Linked DNA regions of Homo sapiens. The protein of the gene in region 3 purifies or fractionates together with the protein of the main gene of each other region. This does not show direct contact. Each region holds a gene or a part of one and is shown on either strand. Other genes may lie near its edges.

Region 1 (7,898 bases), on a different chromosome or scaffold from region 3:
AAAGTTAAATATACACCTTCCATGTGATCCGGAAATCACACTTGTGGATATTTCAGAGAAATAAAAACTAGGTTCACATGGAAATCTGCACATGAATGTTTAAAGCAATTTCAATCATCACCAAAAATTGGAAATAACTCAAATGTCCTTCAGCTGATGAATGGATAAACAAATTATGATACAGCCATACAACAGAATACTACTAGCAATGAAAAGAATGGACTGTAAATACACATGATAACTTGGATGAATCTCAAACTATGCTGAGTGAAAGAAATCCACTCAAAAGCTTACATATTGTATAGACTTTATTTATGTGACATTCATAAAGAGGCAAAAGTGTATTGACAGGGAACACATCAGTGATAACCAGGAGTTAAAGGTAAGGGGAGGATGTGGCCATAAAGGGATAGCATATGGGAGATTTGCAGGGTGATCAAACTGGTCTATTTCCTGATTATAGTGGTGCCACAAATCTATACATATTCTAGAATTCACAGAACTGTATGCCCAAGAGTCTATTTTAATGTATGACAATTACAAATTTAAAATGAGACAGCTGGGGCCAGGCGCAGTGGCTCATGCCTGTAATTCCAGCACTTTGGGAGGCCGAGCCGGGTGGATCACAATGTCAGGAGTTCAAGAACAGTCTGGCCAAGATGGTGAAACCCCTTCTCTACTAAAAATACAAAAATTAGCCAGGCGCCATGGCGGGCGCTGTGGAAGTCGCCTATAATCCCAGCTACTCAGGAGGCTGAGGCAGGAGAATCTCTTGAACCCGGGAGGCAGAGGTTGCAGTGAGCCGAGATCGTGCCACTGCACTCCAGCCTGGGTGACAGAGTGAGACTCCATCTCAAAAAAAAAAAAAAAAAAAAAAGGCCGGGCACGGCGGCTCATCCCTGTAATCCCAGCACTTTGGGAGGCCGAGGAGGATGGATCACAAGGTCAGGAGATTGAGACTATCCTGGCTAACACAGTGAAACCCCGTCTCTACTAAAAATACAAAAAATTAGCCAGGCGTGGTGGCGGGCGCCTGTAGTCCCAGCTACTCGGGAGGCTGAGGCAGGAGAATGGCGTGAACCTGGGAGGTGGAGCTGGTAGTGAGCCAAGATCATGCCACTGCACTCCAGCCTAGGCGACAGAGTGAGACTCCATCTCAAAAAAAAAAAAAAAAAAAAGAGACAGGTGGAACTTTGAACACTGACTAGCTATCTGATGAAACTAAGTAATTGTTGTTAATTATTTTTACATGTGATAATGGTATTATGGTTATTTTTAAGTCCTTAGCTTTTAAAGATACACACTAAAATATTTAAGGACAAAGTTATAAAAAATATGGGATTTGCTTAAAAATAATACTGGAGGAAGGAACGGACTGGGGAAGAAATGAAAGAAAGGTGACCATGATTTAATAATTGTTGAAGAGGGTGATGGGTACGTCGGGCTTTATTATACTGTTCTGTCTACTTTTGTATATGTTTGATAGTTTCCATACTAAAAAGTTCAGCCAGGCACGGTGGCTTACGCCTGTAATCCCAGCACTTTGGGAGGCTGAGGCAGGCGGATCACGAAGTTAGGAGTTTGAGACCAGCCTGGCCAACATGGTGAAACCTCGTCTCTACTAAAAGTACAAAAATTAGCCGGGGATGGTGGCGCATGCCTGTAATCCCAGCTACTCAGGAGGCTGAGGCAGAAGAATCACTTGAACCTGGGAGGCAGAGGTTGCAGTGAGTCGAGATTGCGCCACTGCACTCCAGCCTGGGTGACAGAGCAAGACTCCGTCTCAAAAAAAAAAGAAAAGTTCAAAAAGGGTGTGAGGTTGTTAGTTTTCAACATCAAGCTGCCTGGTATGCAGTCTGAGTTTGCCATTTAGTAGGTGATCTTGGGCAAGTGACTTACTTGTCCTAAACTTCAGTTTCCCCCCACTCCATAAAATGAGACTACTAATGATAATATCTATCTCACAGTTGTTGTCAGGATTAAATGGATGTTGTCAGAATACGTGAAAAGCAATTTACCTAGTTCTTGCTATATTGCACATGCTCAATAAATGTTAATTTTTTTGTCATTATTACATCTCCTGGTCTGATTCCTCCATGCCATCTCCTCAGTATGAGCAAGTCTTCCTCCAAGCTTCTTTCTGGATATCTTATCTAAAAAGGGCCACTGAGTTTTACATCCTAATTCAGAATTATAAAACACAGGTTTGAAATTCTACTTCCCCCTCACACTACATTATATATATATATTTTTTTAAACAGGGTCTTGCTCTATTGCCCAGGCTGGAGTGCAGTGGCGCAATCATGGCTCACTGCAGCGTTGATCTCCCAGGCTCAAGCAATACCCCCACCTCAGCCTCCTTAGTATCTAGGACTACAGGCCAGCGCCATCGCACTTGGCTAATTTTTGTATTTTTGTAAAGACAGGATTTTGCCATGTTGCCCAGGCTGGTCTCAAACTCCTGGGCTCAAGTGATCCATCCAGCCTCCCAAAGTGATGGGATTACAGGCGTGAACCCAGCCTGTTCTATTCTTTATTGTATACCCAGGAGGAAATCCTAAACTTAAAAGATTGGGTTAAATAAAAATTCAGAAATGCCTATCTTTTCCTCCAAACTAGGAGTAATGTAAGATTACCATGAGTCGTGGTGGAGTGGAGTTCAATTCACCACAGAATCTGAGACAGGAAGACCTGCCAGGCCATCAGCCCCTTCCCACCACTCCTGCAGCATTCATTTTCAGGAGCAAAAGAGCCTTCCCACAATTACTGAGTCCAACACTTAGTTTCCAGGATAAGCCCACACCCAACCATTCTGTCCTGTGGTTCCCAGTGATACACTCACACTTGTTAGAATGTGCCACTTTGGGGTTCAGAAAATGCAATCACTGAGAGAAGCCCGAGTTGTAGTTATGCTCTCCTTTCGTTCCATACTTCCCCCTCTCTTGCCACATCTATCCACTAGAGGGAGGAAGGCCTAGAACCTCTTTAGCCAGAGTGGAGCAGTGGCAAGGATCAGTAGTGTGGCTTCTTAACCAAGCCAGCAGTGGGGATGTCAGAAGCACCGGAACATAATCGCCTCATTCTCTCGGAACAGAAAAGAGGAAGGGTCCCTTCCTTCCCCTTTTCAACCCTCTCTGCATGGATTGGCATGTCACCATGATCTGGTGCACTCACTTCCCTCAAGTCAGTGTGCAGGCTGCTTAAAAAATTCAGAGGAACATGTACTGGGGTCTTAGGAACATTTTCAGCCAGTGGAGAGGAAAAGGAAAACTAAGTATCTCTTGGATCATTCACAGAGTTCACCAAATACAACTGAAAACTGGGGGCTCTAATGTCCCTGCTGCCCTGATGGTATTAGTTTAAGATGTTGACACTGACATCTGCAGAGATCTCATCCATCACGGTATATCAAAGAGCAAATGTCATTCTAGTTGAGAAACTCATGTATGAGAAAGAATGGTCATCTTGGGAAATCTGTAGCTCCAGCGGCTCCTGATGTTTTTTCCTGCCTCCTCCTGTCCCATGCTTGTGCCCCAGGCAGAGCTCATTCCTAAAACCATAGCTGACCCTCTGTGCTGTCTTTTAAGTTATAATAGTAGCTGCCAACTGTTGAATATTTTGCTTTATGACAGGCACTACACTAAGCACGTTAACATATCTCACTGAAGCCTCACACCAAAGCTATGAACTAGATACAATCTATCTGTAGATAATAATATATATCCATCTGTAGATATCCATCTTATATCCATCTGTAGATGAAGAAACTCAGGTTGAGTAAGCTATCTAAGGTCACAGAGCCAATAAGTGCTAGAGGCAAGATTCTTATTCTGTACACTCTGCCTCCAAAGCCCACTTCTTTGACCCTAAGGGCACAAGAACCCAAATCAGGATGTGAAGCTTGGTCTTTGAAACCAAAGGAAGCTCCTGAATCATCCTGATAGGCTGACGGCTTGGCGCTGTAAACAAAATCAGTCTTTTGTCAAAAGGAAATGAAGTTGCCATGCCACTGTTCACTCCTGTAAGAGACTCCTCTGGGCTGTTCCATTCTCTTGCTGCAATTCAGCCGGTTGAAAAACTAAGGTGACTGCACAATGATTAACTTCAGGCCCTTCTGCTCTACTTTGAGCCTGTCTCTGGTTCATCGTTACACTCTCCGCTCAGCACCCGCAGACTCAAGAGATTTCCAATCCCCCAATTTAGCGTGGTTCTACCTTAGGCAGAACTCCCATCCAGTTCGGATATAAGCGGGTCGAAGTGGCAGGGACCACCTCGCTGGGAGGAGAGGCTGGAGCTGCGGTCTTAAAAGATCTTGGGGCCGGGCGCGATGGCTCACGCCTGTAATCCCAACACGTTGGGAGGCCGAAGCGGGTAGATTATTTGAGCCCTGGAGCTCGAGACCACCCTGACCAACACGGTGAAACCCAGTCTGTACTAAAAATACAAAAAAAAAATTAGCCGGGCGTGGTGGCGCACGCCAGTAGTCCCAGATACTCGGGAGGCGGAGCCAGGAGAACCACTTGAAACTGGGAGGCGGAGGTTGCAGTAACCGAGATCGCGCCACTGCACTCCAGCCTGGGCGACAGAGCGAGGCTCCGACTCAAAAAAAAAAAAAAAAGTATTGAATAAGCACCGGAGACCCTGAGCCACCGAGTAGCGGAGGGAAAGGGTGGCGCGCAGAGGGGCCCAGCCCCGCCTCTGCCGGACCCCGCCCCCAAAAGGCCCCGCCGCCGCCACCTCCTGCTAGGCCCCGCCCCCGACAGACACCCCCCCCCCCCCCCGCCAGGCCCCGCCTCCTGCCCCCCCAGCCGCGAGGTCCTGCCTCCTGCCCGGCCCCGCCCCCGGCCTGCCCCGCCCTCCGACCCGCCCCGCGGCGCATTGTGGGATCTGTCGGCTTGTCAGGTGGTGGAGGAAAAGGCGCTCCGTCATGGGGATCCAGACGGTAAGACCCTCATTCAGTATCCTCCACTGGGGGACCCCTCCCCATCTGGTTCTGGCCACTCAGCTCCGGACCAGGGGCTGTCGCTGCCGACCCCGCCCCGCAGGGCTCTGGGCCCACCGTGGATGCTGGGGTCCCGATCCCGCACATCCGGGCTCGGGACTCCGCCAGGTTACCCCTCTGCCCTTGGCATGCCTCCGCGCTGGAGCTCGGGATCGCCACCCCTGGGACGGTCACCACCCAAGCCCCGGGCTCTTACCCAGCCTGGCGGTCACGCTGCCTCCTCTACCCACAGAGCCCCGTCCTGCTGGCCTCCCTGGGGGTGGGGCTGGTCACTCTGCTCGGCCTGGCTGTGGGCTCCTACTTGGTTCGGAGGTCCCGCCGGCCTCAGGTCACTCTCCTGGACCCCAATGAAAAGTACCTGCTACGACTGCTAGACAAGACGGTAAGTTGGGGAAGAAAGGGCCAGGGTGAAGGAGGGGACCAGAGTGCTCCTGGCATGGAGGGTACAGCACCCACGGTGGTTGGGATGTCCAAGGGACGTGGCAGCGCCAGGCGCGCTTGGTGAAACACTTGTGTCCTCCACCCTCCAGACTGTGAGCCACAACACCAAGAGGTTCCGCTTTGCCCTGCCCACCGCCCACCACACTCTGGGGCTGCCTGTGGGTAAGGAAAGTGTGGAATGGGCTCCTTTCCCTGGTATCCTCAGAAGGTGACTCCCCTCCTGGGATCTCATGAAACACGCTGCTTCAACCGGTTTGCTCCACACACCATTCCCCTTCCCCCACTTGGCTCTGCATCCTCCAAGCTGTGAGGTGCCACTGGGCCCCTCTAGAGTGTGGCTTCCATGACCCCCATCCAGCTTTAACACTCAACAGTCTTGCCTCTTCCCTGCAGGATTTGCTAATTACTCCCTCTGAGCAAGCACTACTAACTTTTTCCCATTGCCCAGACCCTTTTGGCTCATCTGTCAAGGTCCTGGCAGTAACTGGCAGGAAACGCTGGAAATAAGTGTTTCCTCAACTGGGCGCTTATAAGAGATCCAACTGAGGGCTCAATGGGGCAAATCTTCCCTGCCTTGTAGCTCCTTGGGACCACAGCAGGAAGCAAGACATCTTGTTCTCTCAAATCTCTTTGAGTATTTTGAGGGATGCAGCACATCACAGACAACCCTTATGTAGCTCTCTGCACGGTCCCCAGGCAAACATATCTACCTCTCCACCCGAATTGATGGCAGCCTGGTCATCAGGCCATACACTCCTGTCACCAGTGATGAGGATCAAGGCTATGTGGATCTTGTCATCAAGGTAAGGGGCTAGGAAGGGACCCAGGGGCTGCTTACCCATTCTTTCTGGGATTTGTAGAAATTTCTAAGATTTGCCTGACAGCAGGAAATGGTATGTACTCTGTGGATGTGAAGAAAGTATGAGCTACTCAGGAGACTGAGGCAGGAGACTCACTTGAACCCAGGAGGCGGAGGTTGCAGTGAGCCAAGATTGCGCCACTGCACTCAAGCCTGGGCAGCAAGAGCAAAACTCTGACTCAAAAAAAAAAAAGAAAGAAAGAAAGTATGTAGACGGGGAAAAGATAGCACATATCTGATCCCTGCCCCAGCCTCAGGGAGGTTTAGTCAACATGGGGCTCAGAAACCAGTGACATTCCAAATAAGGTATTTTTCTCTCTGTCTTGTAAGGTCTACCTGAAGGGTGTGCACCCCAAATTTCCTGAGGGAGGGAAGATGTCTCAGTACCTGGATAGCCTGAAGGTTGGGGATGTGGTGGAGTTTCGGGGGCCAAGCGGGTTGCTCACTTACACTGGAAAAGGTAATGACCTGTCTTCTCCTTGAGCCTGTCTCCCACTTTATCAGTTCCCATAGTCCTCTTGGCACAGTATGGCTGTGTGTACACATGTGTATGCACGTAAGGGCCAGGGCCGCCCTTCCTTCTAAACATAGCGCTGATACAATAGAAAGGCATGTTTCTCAGCCCCATTTGCCACAGGAAGCAGTTCCTCCTCCACTTGAATTCCCTAGCCATGGCAGCTGTGGAGATTACTAAAGCAAACATGTGCCCCTCTTCCCCACCTTCAAAAATTTGCCCCCCTGGGTGAGCTGTGGAGTGAGCCAGAGATAGCTTTCAGCCCTTCCCATGGGAACAGCTGGGTGCATTAGCAAGTCCCTGGAGCTGCTGTGTGCCACTTGGGAAAATAGATTCACACCTGGCTCTGTGCCTGTCTCCTTCACCAGGGAGTGACACTTTGCCAGAAGCAGCTGATACATTGTGTGGCGCTGAACTGACTCACAGATAGCCCTGGCCCCATTGTCCCTCAACTATATTATTGTCAGGGCTGGCTCAACTCAAGCTTCCACCCAAGCTCCAGGATCAGATGTCATAGCAGCTGCTCAACTGGCCTCAGGCATATTTTCAACTCTGCATTTGTTTTCTAAGTTCGCTGTATTGACTTTATTCTTCCACTGCTCTCTTCACCTGACCTCTCAGGGCATTTTAACATTCAGCCCAACAAGAAATCTCCACCAGAACCCCGAGTGGCGAAGAAACTGGGAATGATTGCCGGCGGGACAGGTGCATTACACTGAGGGCCTTTCTCTCCCACCATTGTTGACTGTTGCCATGCAAATTCCTAGGTGACCCTCTGAAGACTGGTAACCATAGCCAAGCTGTTGTTCATCAGGGGATTTCCAGCAATGCTTAGAACTCCCTAGTATCTGAAAAACAAAATCATAAGCAGGTAGAAACCAAAAAAAATTTTAACTGATGGAATTAGAGAAACAAATTAAATGAGCTTTCCTCATTTTGAATGGATCTAATAGTTTTAGGTGAGAGAAGAGAGAAGCAGCTAGGAATGACTAGCTAGGAAGAAAGAAAATTAGCATTGGACACTACTGTGCATTAGACACTGTGTAGTCTAATACACTACTATATATTAGACACAAAAATTA
Region 2 (5,332 bases), about 16 Mb from region 3:
TAAAAATAGACTATAAACTAGCCTCTTATAATACTGGGGGAAACCAATAGCAAAAAAGGTCCATGGTTTTATGATACAAGTTACTGTATTCTATGGTGTTTTGGAAAACTGGCAAAGAAATTTCCAACTAAGTCAATTAAAGATTAAATGATAAACTTTAATTGCTGAAAAGATAACTCAAATTTAATAAACATAAATATGTTTTGGATCGCTAGCAGGCTTCTGCAGAGTTTATTCGATAATTCTAACTTACACAATAGTCAAGCCAACAGAAAGAAGAAAAATACAGCTTGGAGGCAGAGGTTGGTCTTGATCTTGGTTTTCCCACTTCTCCTTTCCTGGGAAGCCATACATGTCATGTCTTGGCATTCTGTTCCAGCAATAGGGATAAGGAAAAAAGATAACCTCTGTTCACCCTCAGATGTTTGTTGTTGCTTTGGTCATTCCAAACTGGATGTGGCAGCCATTAACTGGTAAGTAGAACATGTGATAGGGAGTTGGAAGAGACACTCAGAAGGCAGAGTTGTAAAAGAGTATTATTTATTAGAAAGAATAACAAAGTATATACATGTCATTTAACACATATGTCTGGGCTACTAGGACACTGTAATAGTGGATTTCTTCTGGAGCCTAAAACACCACGCTTCGATACTTGAGAATTTCTGCTCACAAAAAAGTTTAAGAGTTTTTTGTAAAAATTAAAATGTAGGCCGGGTGCAGTGGCTCACGCCTGTAATCCCAGCACTTTGGGAGGCCGAGGCGGGCGGATCATGAGGTCAAGCGATTGAGACCATCCTGGCCAACATGGTGAAACCCCGTCTCTACTAAAAATACAAAAATACAGGCATGCCAGCATGTGCCTGTAATCCCAACCACTCCTGCTGAGACAGGAGAATTGCTTAAACCTGGGAGGCGGAGGTTGCAGTGAGTCGAGATCGTGCCACTGCCCTCCAGCCTGGCAACGGAGCGAGACTTCGCCTCAAAAAACAAAACAAAAAATTAAAAATAAAAATCCTCAATAAAATACTGGCGAACCAAATCCAGCAGCACATCAAAAAGCTTATCCACCATGTTCAAGTGGGCTTCATCCCTGGGATGCAAGGCTGGTTCAATATACGCAAATCAATCAATGTAATCCAGCATATAAACAGAACCAAAGACAAAAACCACATGATTATCTCAATAGATGCAGAAAAGGCCTTTGACAAAATTCAACAACGCTTCATGCTAAAAACTCTCAATAAATCAGGTATTGATGGGACGTATCTCAAAATAATAAGAGCTATCTATGACAAACCCACAGCCAATATCATACTGAATGGGCAAAAACTGGAAGCATTCCCTTTGAAAACTGGCACAAGACAGGGATGCCCTCTCTCACCACTCCTATTCAACATAGTGTTGGAAGTTCTGGCCAGGGCAATTAGGCAGGAGAAGGAAGTAAAAAGTATTCAATTAGGAAAAGAGGAAGTCAAATTGTCCCTGTTTGCAGATGACATGATTGTATATCTAGAAAACCCCATTGTCTCAGCCCAAAATCTCCTTAAGCTGATAAGCAACTTCAGCAAAGTCTCAGGATACAAAATCAATGTACAAAAATCACAAGCATTCTTATACACCAATAACAGACAAACAGAGAGCCAAATCATGAGTGAACTCCCATTCACAATTGCTTCAAAGAGAACAAAATACCTAGGAATCCAACTTACAAGGGACGTGAAGGACCTCTTCAAGGAGAACTACAAACCACTGCTCAATGAAATAAAAGAGGATACAAACAAATGGAAGAACATTCCATGCTCATGGATAGGAAGAATCAATATCGTGAAAATGGCCATACTGCCCAAGGTAATTTATAGATTCAATGCCATCCCCATCAAGCTACCAATGACTTTCTTCACAGAATTGGAAAAAACTACTTTAAAGTTCATATGGAACCAAAAAAGAGCCCGCATCGCCAAGTCAATCCTAAGCCAAAAGAACAAAGCTGGAGGCATCATGCTACCTGACTTCAAACTATACTACAAGGCTACAATAACCAAAACAGCATGGTACTGGTACCAAAACAGAGATATAGATCAATGGAACACAAAAGAGCCCTCAGAAATAACGCCGCATGTCTACAGCTATCTGATCTTTGACAAACCTGAGAAAAACAAGCAATGGGGAAAGGATTCCCTATTGAATAAATGGTGCTGGGAAAACTGGCTAGCCATATGTAGAAAGCTGAAACTGGATCCCTTCCTTACACCTTATACAAAAATTATTTCAAGATGGATTAAAGACTTACATGTCAGACCTAAAACCATAAAAACCCTAGAAGAAAACCTAGGCATTACCATTCAGGACATAGGCATGGGCAAGGACTTCATGTCTAAAACACCAAAAGCAATGGCAACAAAAGACAAAATTGACAAATGGGATCTAATTCAACTCAAGAGCTTCTGCACAGCAAAAGAAACTACCATCAGAGTGAACAGGCAACTTACAAAATGGCAGAAAATTTTCGCAACCTACTCATCTGACAAAGGGCTAATATCCAGAATCTACAATGAACTCAAACAAATTTACAAGAAAAAAACAAACAACCCCATCAAAAAGTGGGCAAAGGACATGAACAGACACTTCTCAAAAGAAGACATTTATGCAGCCAAAAAACACATGAAAAAATGCTCACCATCACTGACCATCAGAGAAATGCAAATCAAAACCACAATGAGATACCATCTCACACCAGTTAGAATGGCGATCATTAAAAAGTCAGGAAACAACAGGTGCTGGAGAGGATGTGGAGAAATAGGAACACTTTTACACTGTTGGTGGGACTGTAAACTAGTTCAACCATTGTGGAAGTCAGTGTGGCGATTCCTCAGGAATCTAGAACTAGAAATACCATTTGACCCAGCCATCCCATTACTGGGTATATACTCAAAGGACTATAAATCATGCTGCTATAAAGACACATGCACACGTATGTTTATTGCAGCACTATTCACAATAGCAAAGACTTGGAACCAACCCAAATGTCCAACAATGATAGACTGGATTAAGAAAATGTGGCACATATACACCATGGAATACTATGCAGCCATAAAAAAGGATGAGTTCATGTCCTTTGTAGGGACATGGATGAAATTGGAAATCATCATTCTCAGTAAACTATCGCAAGGACAAAAAACCAAACACCACATGTTCTCACTCATAGATGGGAATTGAACAATGAGAACACATGGACACAGGAAGGGGAACATCACACTCTGGGGACTGTTGTGGGGTGGGGGGAGGGGAGAGGGATAGCATTAGGAGATATACCTAATGCTAAATGACGAGTTAATGGGTGCAGCACACTAGCATGGCACATGTATACATATGTAACTAACCTGCACATTGTACACATGTACCCTAAAACTTAAAGTATAATAACAATAAAATAAAAGAAAAAAATTAAAAAATTAAAATGTAGTAAATAAAGGTCTATTAAAAAATACTGAACAAAAGTGAAGTTCTGGTAGTATCAGTGACCGTAGGTATTGTAAAATATCCTTTTTGGAAAAATAGTGAATCAACCAAACATTGAAAATACATTTTCTCCTAAAATACACAAGTGTATAGTGGAAATACTGTGTATGTATCCAAATAACAGCAGTATTCTTTTATCAGAAGTGAATAGCTTTATAAATTATAATGTATACATCAACCCATGCTCTTTGTGCACAGTAAGTATACTTTTGGAGTCAAAGAACTTCAAAGTACAACCAGCTCTAGATCTTTTTTGTTAGTGGTCTATATGAAGACCATGAGTAGATGAAGTGGGTTTACTTGATAAATATTTTGATGGCCTATTATGTCCCAGGCATTGTGTTAGGCACTAGCAATGCAATTATAGAATGACAGACATGTTCTCTTCCCTTGTGAAGCCTATTGATTAATTTAATAATTAATCAATTATTAAAGCAGCAGCTGACAAATAAGCTATTGCAATATAGCATGAGAAGTGCTGACCTGGAAAGCACAGGGTTGCACTTGAGAAACCAAGCCATAATGAAGAACCAAAACTGGATTTAAAGGAGTCAGAGAAGTTTCCCTGGAGGACATGATGTCTCACTTGAGGTCTTAAGGCTGTGTAGATATTGGTCAGTCTGGTAGGGAGCAGTTAAAGAAGTAAAGCATGTACAAAGTTCTGGAAGTAAGAAAGCATGTCTCTTTAAAGGAACTGGGGAAAAGTTCAGTATAGTTGAATCCTGGAAATGGAGAGTGGCAGTATAGAGAGATGAGGTACGCAAGAACCAGTACATGAAGAGCCTTGTAAAACATATTAAGGCATAAGGACTTTATCATAACGAAAACAGAAAGCCATTGAAAAGATTTAGGTCAAGGATATCAGAATCATGTTAGAATAATTCTTTAGAAAGATCTGTAACTACAAAGTGGAAAATGAAGGTAGGGAGGCTAATCAGGATTCTCAGCATGCCAGGTGAGATGATGGCAGAATGGACTCAGTGATGCTAGGAATGAATAGAAGTAGAAAGATTATATTTTTAGAAGTAAAATAGATTTGGTACTTGGTTACATGTAGGTAGTGTAGGAAACACAGAGTCAAGGATGTCATCTACAACTCCTGCTTGAGCAGTTAGGGAAAGGATTGTGTCATTTGCTGAGATGGGAAACAGGAATTAAAGATTTGGGAGAAGGATGCTGCGCTCGTTTGGACACGCTGAGTCTTGGGTACTATGGGATAACCAAATGCAAATAAATATTGGGCAAGCAATTGAATGTAGGAGTCTTAAATTCTGTACAGTGCTCTGATCTAGAGATGCAAATTGGGGAGCTGTTAGGATGCAAATGGTAACTCTGCAGCCACGGGAGTGGTGACATTGCCGAGCTGCTGTGTGGAGTGATGTGAGAGCAGGCTGTTGGACTGAACTCCAACGCATACCAAAAATTAAATGTTGGGCAGAGAGACAAGAGTTGCAAATGACCTCTAATCCACCAATACTCCTGAAGTCATAGTTTGTAAATAAGTTTATATTCTTCTCGGCCAACTCTATTACCAGGCATGAAAGTCTTTTTTTTTTTTTTTTGAGATGGAGTTTCGCTCTTGTTGCCCAGATTGAGTGCAAGGGCATAATCTTGGCTCACTGCAAACTTTGGCTTCCGGGTTCAAGCGACTCTCCTGCCTCAGCCTCCTGAGTAGCTGAGATTACAGGCATGCACCACCACGCCTAGCTAATTTTGTATTTTTTTTTTTTTTTTTTTAGTAGAGACGGGGTTTCTCCATGTTGGTCAGGCTAGTCTCGAACTCCCGACCTCAGGTGATCCGCCCGCTTCGGCC
Region 3 (7,029 bases):
GGCCCGTTGCTATACTTTTTAAGTACTTACGTCTGCTTTTTAGTTTTTCTGACAGACTGTTTTCCTCGCAGACTGTTCTGCATCATGTTTTTGAAATCTGGCAGCAACAGTTGTTTTATTGTTGTTGCTGTCACCATACTCTTTCCACCAGCTTTAATTTGGGGCTTCTTGTTTGTTATAGCTTTGATAACCCTGGATCTATGCTTAATGTAACTGTGTGTCATTACAACCTGGTAGTTCTGACTGAGAGCTAAATGTCTTTCCTACTAGTTAAGTGCATAAGCTTGAGTGCGTGGACTTCATGACATTTGGTTTTCTCAGAACTCAGAAATTCTTTTTTTTTTTTTTTTTTTTTGAGACGGAGTCTCGCTCTGTCACCCAGGCTGGAGTGCAGTGGCGCAATCTCGGCTCACTGCAAGCTCCGCCTCCCGGGTTCACGCCATTCTTCTGCCTCAGCCTCCCGAGTAGAGTAGCTGGGACTACAGGCGCCCGTCACCACGCCGGGCTAATTTTTTTTGTATTTTTAGTAGAGACGGGGTTTCACCGTGTTAGCCAGGATGGTCTCGATCTCCTGACCTCGTGATCCGCCCGCCTCGGCCTCCCAAAGTGCTGGGATTACAGGTGTGAGCCACCGTGCCCGGCCTCAGAATTCTTTTTGCTTCGTCCTGGTTTTTAGCTATTTTCCAGATAATTGCAGGATCCCTGAGTTATGTTTAAATGTGGTCTTCTGGTACATTCTGTCACCTTGTACAAAAGAGAATTTTTTTTCATACTCTTAGCTTTGATTTCATCAAAGTGATTGATGCTCATTAGGATCTGTCCAGATTTAGGTGTTCCTGCCAATAATCAATACCTCTGATTGAGGTTCTAGATTTAGCATTTTAAAAACAAAAAGGGAGTATTTTGAAAATAATAAGTATATGTCTTTAAAAACAAGTATATTCCCTAGTAAAGTGAACCTATGTACAACTAGTTGGCAGGACCTGTTCACTTTGAATATATTGCACAAACATGTCTAGGTCACCACCAACTTTTCCTCACTAACAAGGTTGATTATTATTTGCTGGTCTGGTGGAGCTGGCCTCTTGAATCCTCAGTGCTCCCCACTGACCCCCTCTATGGAGCTTTATTTAAGACAACAGGGGTTGGAAAACATTTCCTGTAAAGTCCCAGATTGTAAATATTTTAGGCTTGTTTAGGGCAAGGGGAAAAATCAAGGATATTATATAGGTGTTTAGATAACCAGAAAACAAATTCCACAAAATTTTTTAGTAATGACATTTAAAATATAATAATAAGTATAATATAGGTTTGTTAATGAAAGGGATAGAATTTGGTGGGGGAGGGGATGACATTTTCCTTAATTGCACTTCAGAGTTGGTGTTTTCTGTCATCAAACTGATAAATATTCATCTGTAAAAACCGTTTGTAGCTCACGTTACTGATCCAAGTTACAAATGATTTCAAAATTTTTTTGCAACCTTAGCCTAGTCTCTGTAAAATTTGTATTATTAGGGCATCTGTCCTTATAGGGCATATCTTTATAGAATATTTTCAGTTTATTTCTGTAACTGTTATACCACTACACTGTTCTGTCACTGAGCACACACTTCTTTCTTTTCTCTCTCTTATTTATTTATTTATTTTTTTGAGACAGACTGTCTGTTGCCCAGGCTGGAGTGCAGTGGCACAATCTCTGCTCACTGCAACCTCTGCCTCCCAGGTTCAAGTGATTCTCCTGCCTCAGCCTCCTAAGTAGCTGGGGCTACAGGCATCCACCACCACGCCTGGCTAATTTTTGTATTTTTAGTAGAGACAGGGTTTCACCATGTTGGCCAGGCTGATCTTGAACTCCTGACCTCAAGCAGTCTGCCCGGCTTTGGCCTCCCAAAGTGCTGGGATTACAGGCATGAGCCACTGCGCCTGGCCGTTGTTAAATTTTATCTAACTCATTTTGCTGATCAGTTCACTCCACTATATTGTGTATTCCTTTTAGTTTTTAAGTCACAAGTTTGACAAGCATGCTATCATTTGGAGTATTTCAGTTTGTAATAGAAATGTTGAACAGGATAAAACTGTAGTACTACAGTTTTACTGGAAGGAAAATCTCAAATGGGGAACTAATGCCAGAATGCAGCAGTGATTATAGAAAGGAATTTTAAAAGTTAAGCAAATCATCTTAGAAATGCAGCATTCCTTTTTGTACCCGGTCATACAAGAAAGAAGCCTCTGGAAATTCAATCAGATATGTGACATATTTGTCTGAATCATCAAAGCTAAGAAAATGTAATAAATATGGTCACTTGATTGAAGGACAGTTGCATTCTCCTATATTTCTACTGTCTCCAACAAGGTAGAAAGATAATTTTTTTCATTGAAGTTATACTTTTTTAATTAAAAAAGGAAAAAGTAAATCTTTTTATTTTGAAAAATGTTAAATCTATAGAAAAGATGAAAAAATCACGAACACCTGTATATCCTGTCACTAACTGTTAGCCTTTTCCACACTGCCGAAATCTTTCGGCAGGTACATACACACCCACACGCACCTCTTTTGCCAAACTACCCAAAAGTAGGTTGCAGACATTGTGATACTTTGTCCCAAGTACTTAATTGCAGCTTGCACCTCCCAAGAACAAAGAAATTCTTTTACGCAACTCCATCACTGTTACAACTAGAAATACAATATTAATTCAAGAATATCATGCAATACATAGTTAATACTCAAGTTTTTCCAATTGTTCCAAAAATATACCTTATATTCTTTAAAAAAACAAAAATAAAAAAAACCAGGAGCCATATGCAGGAGATAATCAATGTTTATGCATTTGTTGTTAGGTCTTTTTAGACTCCCCTAACCTAAAACTATCCTTTGACCTATCTCTTTCTTGTCACCATTAAAATCTTTGAAGAGTCTAGGTCAGGTTTTCTGCAGAACATCTAATATTCTGGATTTATGGACTGTTTATTTCAAAATAGATCCTGGTCAAACATTTCTGGCAAGAATATCACATGGGTTATGTTGAGAACACCCCACTACATTACATCAAAAGGTACAGGATGCCAGGACATCCCACTACTGGGAATGCCAAACATGACCACTTGTTAAGAGGGTGACTGCTATATCTTTCAATTATAAAGGTTCATGTTCCATTTTGTAATTAGTAAGCAGACACTGGGGTGACATTTGAGGGCCTTTGACTATCCTCTCCTTAACAATCTTCCAGTCAGTTGTTTTAGCATCCATTGATGATCCTTCCATTATAGCATAGAAAGTGGCCATTAAATTATTATTTTCTAATTTTATCCTTTCAATATTTAATAATTGTCATTTGTCATTAAAAGAAGAAAGATTTTGTCTGAGCTCTAAATCAGTCACTCAAACAATTTTATTATTTTTTTAGAATCAAATAATTTACTTCTTGATTCCCTAACTTAGATATATCTGGTTTTTTATTCAAATTCTAGTATATTGATTTCAAAGTATGGGCATCTAGGGTTCTGGTATTTTTCTCAGGTAAGCTACATTATTTTTATTTTTTTCTTATCTCCTTTGACTCAGAAGAGGTTTGTTTATATGGAATGACATATATAGTGTTAAACACTTTAAATATATTAGGAACTAATATGTTTGGCATATAATACATCTAAAAACATTGTTTCTCTTCTTCCTTTCCTCTTTACCACTCCCAACCATATCACGTTTGAAAAAAAAAAGTTTCTTTTTTGAAGACTAATTTGACAGTTCTAAGGCTTATTTTTAAGAAATTAATCTTGGAACATAAGAAGGCATTTTGTCTGTTCTGCATGTCTTGATTATTTGAAAAGATAATGCTCACGTTAAGGTGAACTTGTTAACTCTTTCTATTGTGTGTGTGAAAATGTAATGAGTATATAGACTCATGTGTCACCTAATGGAGGTAAGATATCTACTTAGTATACATGCCTTTGGTCCAGATCAGACGCTTATCCAAAAGATCACTTAAGTCTGGGGAGTCATGGTCTCTCTTTGGTCTGCTGATAAAATTTATCTGGTAACCCATTTAGGAGGTCCCAGGGCTGAAAATGTCTTAGGTTACGTTAAACCTTCCTGGTATCATTCCTGTTTTCTGAAGTAGGAAGCCAAAAGAGCTTCCTGCAGCAATTTAATTTGCTGTCATCAAGTAGAGCATGTTATAATGATGACAGTTATTATTTTTTAGTACTTAGTAGCTACGGGGGATCTAGTTGTAGCTAGTTTATTTGATTTATCTTGACGTAATTTATTCATTTTTACAAATTGCAACACTCTTGATTAATAAATCTGTGCATGTCAATGGTAGCAAAATAATTGCCTTGCAAAAAGTTTCCTCTTTTAAAACTATACTGTTTCCCAAATTTCTGTATACAATAATGCATATATACAATCCATGGAAATTCAAAAAAATAATGCTTATTCATAGATAAATTAGTGTAGCAGAATCAATATTGGTAAATTCTACCTCTATCACATCATTTTCATAACTAGAGAATAAAACTGTTGACACTTAAGATCCACATGTAATGAGATAAATTTATACTACTTTTTTCTTCTTTACACCTAGAGAATGGGACATTTTAGAGACTGAAGAGCATTATAAGAGCCGATGGAGATCTATTAGGATTTTATATCTTACTATGTTTCTCAGCAGTGTAGGTAAGTATTAGAAATACATAATTTTAACAATTCAGATCAGATGTCATATTTTAACTTCATTTACTTCATTTACTTTCATTGCCTCTGAAATTATCTTTATTGTGCTAAAAAATACGTGACATAAATTTACCGTGTTACCATATCTAAGTTCAATAGCCTTAAGTATATCCACATTGTTGTGCAACCAATCCCTAGAACATTTTCATCTTGCAAAAGAGAAACTCTATACCCATTAAACAACTCCCTATTTTCCCATCCCCCAAGCCCTAGCAAACTTTGTTTCTTGGAATTTGACTATTCTAGATAGCTCATATAAATGGAATTATATAGTATTTTTTTTCTTGTGATGAGATTATTTCACTCAATGTCCTCAAGTTGGTTCATGTTGCACTTGTGATAATTTCCTTTTATTTAAAGGCTGTATAGTTCATTATATGTATTCTAGGGTAGGAGAAATTTTTCCTCTATTCTCCTATGTGCTTAAGGCTTGTGAATTAAGCTGACAAAAGAAAGACTAACAGTTAAAAAAGTATACAAATTTATTTGATGTTAATATTTTTTAATGAAAAGAAACAAATAACATTAAGGAATGTACATACAAACGAAACTAGACAACTACTAAGAGTCCCTAACACTTTCATGTACTCACAAAAGTATTTCATCTTTTTTTTTTTTTTTTTTTGAGACGGAGTTTCACTCTTGTTGCCCAGGCTGGAGTGCAATGGCACGATCTCAGCTCACTGCAACCTCCACCTCCCAGATTCAAGCGATTCGCCTGCCCCAGCCTGCCAAGTATCTGGGATTACAGGCATGTGCCACCACCCCTGGCTAATTTTGTATTTTTAGTAGAGACGGGATGTCTCCATGTTGGTCAGGCTGGTCTCGAACTCCCAACCTCAGGTGATCTGCCCACCTCGGCCTCCCAAAGTGCTGCGATTACAGGCGTGAGTCACCGCCCCCAGTTAAAAATATTTCATCTTTTTTCTTTTTTTTTTTTTTTCAAGACGGAGTTTCGCACTGTCGCCCAGGCTGGAGTGCAGTGGCGCGATCTCGGCTCACTGCAAGCTCCGCCTCCCAGGTTCGCGTGATTCTCCTGCCTCAGCCTCCCGAGTAGCTGGGACTACAGACACCCGCCACCACGCTAATTGTTTTATATTTTTAGTAGAGACGGGGTTTCACTGTGTTAGCCGGGATGTCTTGATCTCCTGACCTCGTGATCTGCCAGACTCAGCCTCCCAAAGTGCTGGAATTACAGGCCTGAGCCACCGCACCTGGCCAAAAGTATTTCATCTTTACAGCCATCAGTCAATTATTTGTTCTGCTACTTCTTGAAGATGTGCAAAATTTCTTTTTAAAAAAATTTTATTATTTATTATTATTTATTCATTTTTTGAGGTGGAGTCGCCCAGGCTGGAGTGCAGTGGTGTGATCTCGGCTTACTGCAACCTCTGCCTCCTGGGTTCGAGCAATTCTTGTGCCTTAGCCTCCCGAGTAGCTGGGACTACAGGCGCACGCTATCACGCCCAGCTAATTTTTTTGTATCTTTAGTAGAGATGGGGTTTCACGGCGTTAGCCAGGATGGTCTCGATCTCGTGACCTCATGATCTGCCCGCCTCAGCCTCCCAAAGTGCTGGGATTACAGGCGTGAGCCACCCCGCCTGGCCAGTGCAAAATTTCTTAAGTTTAAATATACAGTCTTAATTATACCTGTGTCTTAATGTCCCAAGACAGATTGTAGGTAACAGAATCTCAATTGTGCCTCAAAGAATTAACAACAAAACAAAATTCAATCTATTCTCTGCATTCAGGCAGAAAGGGGGAGAGCAGAGAACCCTTCCTGCATCTGCTATTTCTCGGTTGCCTTCAGTTTGAGATAATTAATATGGCAAAACAGCAGATTTTTGGAGTAGCATACTCTGATTGCCTTCAGTATATACCACATTTTTTTTTTTTTTTTTTTTGAGACAAAGTCTCGCTCTGTCGTCCAAGCTGGAGTGCAGTGGTGTGATCTTGGCTCACTGAAACCTCCGCCTGCGGGGTTCAAGCAATTCTCTGCCTCAGCCTCCCAGGTAGCTGGGATTACAGTCACCCACCACCATGCCCGGCTAATTTTTGTATTTTTAGTAGAGATGGGGTTTCACCATCTTGGCCAGGCTGGTCTTGAACTCCTGACCTCGTGATCCACCGGCCTCAGCCTCCCAAAGTGCTAGGATTACAGCCTAGCCTGGCCTACCACATTTTGTTTAGCCATTTATCTGTCGATGGACATTTGGGTTGCTTCCACCTCTTGGCTGTTGTGAATAGTGCTGCTGTCAATATGGGTGTGCAAATATCTCTTCAAGATCCTGCTTTTA

What was found.
Region 1: the proteins of MFSD8 (region 3) and CYB5R1 purify together in Homo sapiens (affinity purification with mass spectrometry; 3 studies listed by BioGRID and IntAct, with this or other methods). This does not show direct contact.
Region 2: the proteins of MFSD8 (region 3) and FAM241A purify together in Homo sapiens (affinity purification with mass spectrometry; 2 studies listed by BioGRID and IntAct, with this or other methods). This does not show direct contact.

Annotation. Positions count from the first base shown.
Region 1 is NC_000001.11:202,964,235-202,972,132, reverse strand, and holds the start of CYB5R1 (NADH-cytochrome b5 reductase 1), read left to right. Parts: upstream 1-4,875; 5' UTR 4,876-4,927; coding exon 4,928-4,942; intron 4,943-5,234; coding exon 5,235-5,384; intron 5,385-5,532; coding exon 5,533-5,605; intron 5,606-6,139; coding exon 6,140-6,246; intron 6,247-6,632; coding exon 6,633-6,762; intron 6,763-7,437; coding exon 7,438-7,521; intron 7,522-7,898. UniProt on the Homo sapiens protein: NADH-cytochrome b5 reductases are involved in desaturation and elongation of fatty acids, cholesterol biosynthesis, drug metabolism, and, in erythrocyte, methemoglobin reduction.
Region 2 is NC_000004.12:112,190,448-112,195,779, reverse strand, and holds the end of FAM241A (uncharacterized protein FAM241A), read right to left. Parts: 3' UTR 524-5,332; downstream 1-523.
Region 3 is NC_000004.12:127,955,147-127,962,175, reverse strand, and holds part of MFSD8 (major facilitator superfamily domain-containing protein 8), read left to right. Parts: intron 1-4,583; coding exon 4,584-4,675; intron 4,676-7,029. UniProt on the Homo sapiens protein: Outward-rectifying chloride channel involved in endolysosomal chloride homeostasis, membrane fusion and function. Conducts chloride currents up to hundreds of picoamperes.